Linked DNA regions of Homo sapiens. The protein of the gene in region 1 purifies or fractionates together with the protein of each later gene. This does not show direct contact. Each region holds a gene or a part of one and is shown in the gene's direction. Other genes may lie near its edges.

What was found.
Region 2: the proteins of PAICS (region 1) and ASS1 fractionate together in Homo sapiens (co-fractionation; one large-scale study listed by BioGRID). This does not show direct contact.

What each region holds. Positions count from the first base shown.
Region 1 is NC_000004.12:56,449,651-56,453,302, forward strand, and holds part of PAICS (bifunctional phosphoribosylaminoimidazole carboxylase/phosphoribosylaminoimidazole succinocarboxamide synthetase), read left to right. Parts: intron 1-968; coding exon 969-1,052; intron 1,053-2,221; coding exon 2,222-2,402; intron 2,403-3,652. UniProt on the Homo sapiens protein: Bifunctional phosphoribosylaminoimidazole carboxylase and phosphoribosylaminoimidazole succinocarboxamide synthetase catalyzing two reactions of the de novo purine biosynthetic pathway.
Region 2 is NC_000009.12:130,447,933-130,451,584, forward strand, and holds part of ASS1 (argininosuccinate synthase), read left to right. Parts: intron 1-1,923; exon of another isoform or gene 1,924-2,023; intron 2,024-2,339; exon of another isoform or gene 2,340-2,401; intron 2,402-3,652. UniProt on the Homo sapiens protein: One of the enzymes of the urea cycle, the metabolic pathway transforming neurotoxic amonia produced by protein catabolism into inocuous urea in the liver of ureotelic animals.

The sequences.
Region 1 (3,652 bases):
ACACACACCATGGAATACTATGCAGCCATAAAAAAGAATGAGATTGGCCAGGCGCGGTGGCTCACACCTATAATCCCAGCACTTTGGGAGGCCAAGGCAGGTGGATGACAAGGTCAGGAGTTCAAGACCAGGCCAAGATAGTGAAACCTTGTCTCAAAAAAAAAAAAAAAAAAAAATTAGCCAGGCATGGTGGTGGGCACCTGTAATCCCAGCTTCTCGGAAGGCTGAGGCAGAGAATTGTTTGAACCCGGGAGGTGGAGGTTGCAGTGAGCCGAGATTGTGCCACTGCACTCCAACCTGGTTGACAGAGCGAGACTCTGTCTCCAAAAAAAAAAAAAGAAAGAAAAAGAATGAGATCATGTCCTTTGCAGGGAAATGGATTCAGCTAGAAGCCATCATCCTCAGCAAACTAACACAGGAACGGAAAACCAAACACCACATGTTCTCACTCATAAGTGGGAGTTGAACACTGAAAACACATGGACACAGGGAGGGGAACAACACACACCGGGGCCTGTTGCAGGGTGGGGAGCAAGGGGAGGGAGAGCATTAGGAGAAATACCTAATGCATATGGGGCTTAAAACCTAGATGACAGGTTGATGGGTGCAGCAAACTACCATGGCACATGTATACCTATGTAACAAACCTGCACATTCTGCACATGTATTTAAAATAAAAAATAACAGAAAACAAAATTAGAGCAAGACCCTTTCTATACTTAATATATAAAAATTCTCAAGGCAGTTAATTGTAGTTGCTAGTACAGAAAACACTTAACCTTAAGTGAAAATAAAAGTATACTTTACTATGGAACTTTGTTAGTTTAATTCAGGAAGTGAAAAGATGCATTTTCAGAAGTATCCCTTGCTATACAAACTCTTCATAATCCCTCCCCAAAACTCAGAAACCAAATAGTTTCAGGTAGCAAGAGATACTTGTTTTCTAAACTTTCTATCTTATTTTCTAGTCTTATCGGGACCTCAAAGAAGTAACTCCTGAAGGGCTCCAAATGGTAAAGAAAAACTTTGAGTGGGTTGCAGAGAGAGTAGAGGTAAACCTTCTATAGTAAAACTGTATGTATTATGTGTTTTTCTTCTAAGAAAATCTTGTTTCAAAAGAAAAAAAAATGGGAGAGTATAGTGCTTTTCTTTTCAGTGACTTTGTTTTTTGTTGTTGTTTTTTTTGAGACGGAGTCTTGCTCTGTCGCCCAGGCTGGAGTGCAGTGGCGCCATCTCAGCTCACTGCAAGCTCCGCCTCCCGGGTTCACGCCATTCTCCTAGCTCAGCCTCCCGAGTAGCTGGGACTACAGGCGCTGGCCACCACGCCCAGCTAATTTTTTGTATTTTTAGTAGAGACGGGGTTTCACCGTGTTAGCCAGGATGGTCTTGATCTCCTGACCTCGTGATCCCCCTGCCTCGGCCTCCCAAAGTGCCGGGATTACAGGCGTGAGCCACCACGCCCAGCTCTTCAGTGACTTTGAAAGTGAGGAACACTTTTAGGAAATGTATCAGCTGGGCTATCCTTACTAGGATACTGGAACTCCGTGCTGTTAAGCTGGCCAATACATACCTCCCAGATCCTGTTGGGGAAACCTGGAATCTGTCTCCTCCCTACCCCGTAGGAGAAACCTTATATTTCCTACTCACCTGCACTGCTAGTCAGAGTTCCATTAGCATGGGATGGATGGAACTCTGTGTGACTTTAAATATTCCTTTAAGTTTTATGGTATTACTATAATTCTGGGAGTTGAATGGGGTTTGTGATTATGCAAGGGTCATAATCACATTTGAGAACATTATTCTTATAGGAATATATATTTTGAGTTACAAGCAATTAACTTACAAAGACTTAGAACATGACTTCTGATTTGGCTAATCATACCTTAAAGCTTCCATTAAACAAAGTGCACTAAAGGTCTTAGGATGAAATATTTTGTATTATAATTTCCTGAAAATTAAAAGATTTTGAGTATCTTTACTGTTTATTTTAAATAATTTGTCTGATAAAAATTGAATTCTTTAGGTCTTGATGAAGACCACTTTCCTTTATATATTGAGATTTTTAAAAATAAATCCTGTCTTTTTGTTGTTTGTCTCTGTCTTAAATTTGATCTGTTAAGAAAGAAAATATTGGGCCCAGATATAATTTTACTACAAACTCTAGCTCATTTATTCATTTTTGTTTTTATGTTCTTTTCATATCCACGTATTTTTTCTTCAGTTGCTTTTGAAATCAGAAAGTCAGTGCAGGGTTGTAGTGTTGATGGGCTCTACTTCTGATCTTGGTCACTGTGAAAAAATCAAGAAGGCCTGTGGAAATTTTGGCATTCCATGTGAACTTCGAGTAACATCTGCGCATAAAGGACCAGATGAAACTCTGAGGATTAAAGCTGAGTATGAAGGTAAACCACAAGTAATATGGACATTTCAGGTATTTCTGATTTTGCTAAAAGTAATTACACACTTTAGACTAATAATGCTGAAAAAAGAGCTTTGTCAGTTTTCTAAGGGAAAAACACATGATATACTAGGCTTTCTTTTTTTTTGAGATGGAGTCTCACTCTGTCGCCCAGGCTGGAGTACAGTGGCGCCATCTCAGCTCACTGCAAGCTCCACCTCCCGGGTTCACACCATTCTCCTGCCTCAGCCTCCCAAGTAGCTGGGACTACAGGCGCCCACCACCATGCCCGGCTAATTTTTTGTATTTTTAATAGAGACGGGGTTTCACTGTGTTAGCCAGGATGGTCTTGACCTGATCTCATGATCCGCCTGCCTTGGCCTCCCAAAGTGCTGGGATTACAGGCATGAGCCACCACGCCTGGCCGCTAGGCTTTCTTAATACTCACCTCCAAAGAGCTTAAGGTATTCTAGAAGCTTAGAAAAGAAAGGAGCAGGGAGAAATAATTAAAAATGCAAGTATGAAAAGAAAACAAAGACTAGAATGATGAGAACCTCTGGCATCCTTACCTGGTAAGAAGCCCCTGGAGCATTGCTTCTAATATACTCCAATAGAAAATAGGCCCCCACAGTTACAGGAGGCGGGAGGTTAAAATAGCCGGTTCTCCCGGGAATCTTTAGTTGCCACCCTTTCCTGGGAGGCAGTCAGATAGGAAATTAAAGAACAGTTTCAGAATATAGTACATAAAAAATAATGGTATAGCAGTGATCTAAAATAATGGAGCCCTGGGTTTACAACCAAATGTTTCTCAACTGGAAAAAAATGTTGATTATTTCGTGTACAGGTTGTTGCTATGGAAGTGTAGTTACTAATTTTGGGGGAGTGGGAGGTTGGGGGAACTCAGACTCCTTTGATAGCTAATGAATTCTAGAACTCTTTTCAGAAAATTGCAAATACATACAATTTTGGATTCTAGGTTAACAAATCTCTGCTTTAGGAAACAGGAGGATAATTTATAAATTTATCAAAGAATGAATTGCTTAAGAGATTATGTTAAAAAATGTATCAAAGGGCCTTAAAATTTGGGGGACACTATATTAATTAAACTTTCCTTCAACTCTTGTTTGAAGACGTGTCCCTAAACCCCTAGTTTATATTAACTGGTTCTCCCTGCACCAGTTGAGGGACCACCCAGTCAAGAAAGACACCTGTTCAGATGGTGTCATTCTTCACTTTGGCCAGCCTATACAGCAA
Region 2 (3,652 bases), on another chromosome or scaffold:
CGCCCTGTGGGGAGCAGGCTGTTTGCACCCCTATTTTGCAGCTGAGCAGTTATGCTAGAGAGCTGAAGCCACTCAAACCCATGTCTGGTGGACTTGACCTCTGTCCTGTGCCTGGAGTGAGCGCTCACTGGATTGCAGCTGTGGTTCCTTCTCTCCCTGTCACTTCCTCCCCCGACATCAAACCCTCAGTTTCATTTAGTTTTTGCCTCGGGCTGCAAATGCAGCTTAGGGACCTGCGGAGGCTGAGGGAGGGGGGTGCCCCACCCGCTGCTGGGAGGGCAGGAGCAACGCTGCTGTCTGATTGCATCATTTTCCCAAGCCCATCTGCCCAGCTCATTTCTCTGCATGCATACACTGGCCCCAACACCCACACACGTGTGCATGCACACAGGCACACATGTGCAAGCCCAAACACATCACACACATGCATGCACACACATTGTGTACTCTCAGGTACGCACCCCTGGGTGCACACAGGTGTGTGCGCGCGCACACACACACACACACACACACTGTCTCAGGTACACACGCCAGGTCCATGCATTGCTTCACACTGCCCAGCCCCAGAGGCTGAAGGCCTCAGAGCCCACACCTGCCCAGCTACAACCTGGCAGGCAGGAGGGGCTCACTGGTTTCTTTTGGTTTATTTAAGACAGAGTTTCACTCTGTCACCCAGGCTGGAGTGTGGTGGCACGATCTTGGCTCACTGCAACCTTTACCTCCCAGGTTCAAGCGATTCTCGTGCCTCAGCCTCCCAAGTAGCTGGGACTACAGGTGTGTGCCGCCACACTCAGCTAATTTTTGTATTTTTAGTAGAGACGGGGTTTTGCCACGTTGGCCAGGCTGGTCTGGAACTCCTGACCTCAAGTGATCCACCCACCTCGGCCGTCCAAAGTGCTGGGATTACAGGCATGAACCACTGTGCTCGGCCATGAGAGCATGTGTAGGACTCCACAGCTTCAGGGCACCCCAGCCCTCTTTTTGCGGTGAGGAGCTGACCTCCAGAGAGTGGAACTAGTAGCATTGTTCTAAGTGCCTGCCACAGGCATCTGGGAGATGGTCCCTGTTTCCATGGAGCTCATAGTGGGGGAGAGGGCAGTTAGAATACAGCATGATGGCCGGATGTAGTGGCCCATGCCTGGAATCCCAGCACTTTGAGAGGCTGAGGCAGGCAGATCGCTTAAGTCCAGGAGTTCGAGTCCAGCCTGGGCAATGTAGTGAAACCCCATCTCTACAAAAAATACAAAAATTAGGCAGGTGTGGTGGCATGTGCCTGTAGTCCCAGCTACTTGGGGGTGGTGGCACTGAGCTGGGATGGGAGGATCCCTTGAGCCCAAGAGGTGGAGGCTGTGGTGAGCTGAGATTGCATCACTGCACTCCAGCCTAGGTGACAGAATGAGACCCTGTCTGAAAAAAAAAAAAAAAAAAAAAGGATACAGCTCTGATGGGCAGGAGGCATGGCGGGTCACTGAGGCGATGCAGGTGATCCAGCTGTTTCTGTGGAGCTGCCCCTCCGTGTTTCTGTGGAGCTGCCTCTCTTGGCTCCAGGTGCCTCTGGGAGGAGGCAGGAGCAGGGGTGACTCTCAGAGCTGGGTGAATCTTGGGCCAGCATCATCAGATCACACTTGCCCAGGACTTCCCTTCCTTGAGTCTCCAGTGGTGGTCTTGTACCTATGAGCAGGGGGTTAAGGAGCCGAGCTGATCTGAGTTGGAGTCCTGGCTCTGCTGCCTACCAGTCAAACGAGATGCAGGGCAAGTTCCTCAGCCCAAGCCTCAGTTTTCCTGACTCTAAAATGAAGAGAACCCCAGATGGAAGGGCTTAGCCTAAGACGGACATGTCTATTCCCTTGATTGTGGTGTTGATGTCACGGGCGCATCCGCACGCCGAAACTTGCTAAATTGGACACAAAAAAATATGCGATTATTTTTGTAGTTGATGAATGTGCTGATTGGGTATTCTCGTGTGTGTGTGAGGTGCCACCCTCAAACTTTGTTATGATGTTGGCACATTACCCATCTGATATTTAAAAAATGCAATTTATGATATGTCAAGTAGACCTCAATAGAGCTGTTTTAAAACATACAACAGAATTTCCCGCAACCCAACCACACCACCCGCGCCATCACACGCAAACAGGGGTAGGCTTCCACATATTTCCTGAATGCCTTCTGGAGCAGGGGGCAGGAGGCAGGAGGCAGGACAGGTGGCTCTGGGGCTCCTGGACCTCCTCTGCTCAGTGAGGCTGCTCACAGGAGATTGGGCGGCTGGAAAGTAAGGTTTAGGGCCTCTGGGATGGCCCAGGCTACCTGCAGGCAGCTGAGTAGCTCTGCTTTTGCAGAGTGGTTCACTGCACTGTGAAAACAGATTCCAGACGCCGGGAACTCACGCCTCCAATCCCAGGTACTGCCCACCTTAAGTCCTCCCTGCCTGCCTTCCTCCCTCCTTCCCTCCATCCTGCATGGCCAATTGCCTGGCTGCAGTTGCCATGGATACCACCTGCTGGCTCCAGGGTTAGGGCTGGCTGAGTCACCAGCAACTCAGGGGCAGGGGGTTGAATGCCCAGTAGGGACGTTGTGGGCACCGACCAGAACCATCTTCTCTGCCCCAGCTGCATGGTCCATGAGGTGTTTCCCCTTCTAAGTCCAAAGGGCAGCACAGGCCTGTGAGCCCCGGCTGACTGGCAGGTGGGACCGTGCAGCATGCACGGGACTGAATTCTCATGTGACGGAGCTCCAAAGTCCACCTGGCTACACGGCCAGGCTCTGCAGCAGAGGACGGGAGGCCTGGGAAAGGCACTTCCTCTCCCCGAGCTTCCAGGCACACAGAGAGTGCTCAGGATAGCGATGCCTGCATCACTGCAATGGTGATGGCCGGGTGACCCTTCTGGGCTCCACTTCCCCAGTAGTGTCTAATAAAGACCCTGGGTGACTCTGACCTTGTGACGTTGGTCAGACTCCAGTGGAAACGTTCCCAGGCAGAACAAACATGCCCTGTACATTTGGGAAATGCGGGATGCTGGGGCCAGGTGTCCACGGAGGCTGGAACCAGGAGGCCTGGGCCCACATCTGCCCCTGCTGCTTGTTGATCCGATGACCCTGGGCAGGTGACCTCGTCTCCCTAACCCTGGTTTCCTGTTCAGCAAATTGGACACAGTGAAGACGCCCAAGCCCAGGGCCACAGGAGGCATGTGGGGGAGGGGGGTGCAGGGCGAGCCCAAGGGCAGCCCAGGATTCAGGGAGAGCCCTCGGGGAAGAAGCATGGCTGCAAAGATCAGGAGACAGGAGGCCTTGGCGCCTTCGGGAGGCTTCATTGTGACGGAGGGTGGGGCAGGATGGGAGACCGCAGGCACTTCCCGGCTGCAGAGGGCCTGGCTGCAGAGAGCCCTCGTGCCCATCTGTCCCCCCGGGAAGGGCCGCTGGTTGCAGAGGTCTTAGGCCTCTGCCTGTCTATCGCCTTCCCTCCCTGGGCCTCAGTTTCTCTACCTCCACACTGGGGGAAGTTGGTCTCTGAGCCCCTCCAAACTGGGCATTGGCAGAGTTGAATTCAGAGGCGCTCACATTTGGAGACACGATGTCTAAAATTCCAGCCAGTGAAGGTTCCATGGGGTTGCAGGTAGGAGAGGGACTGGGGCTGGGCCCCTGCCCCACAGCA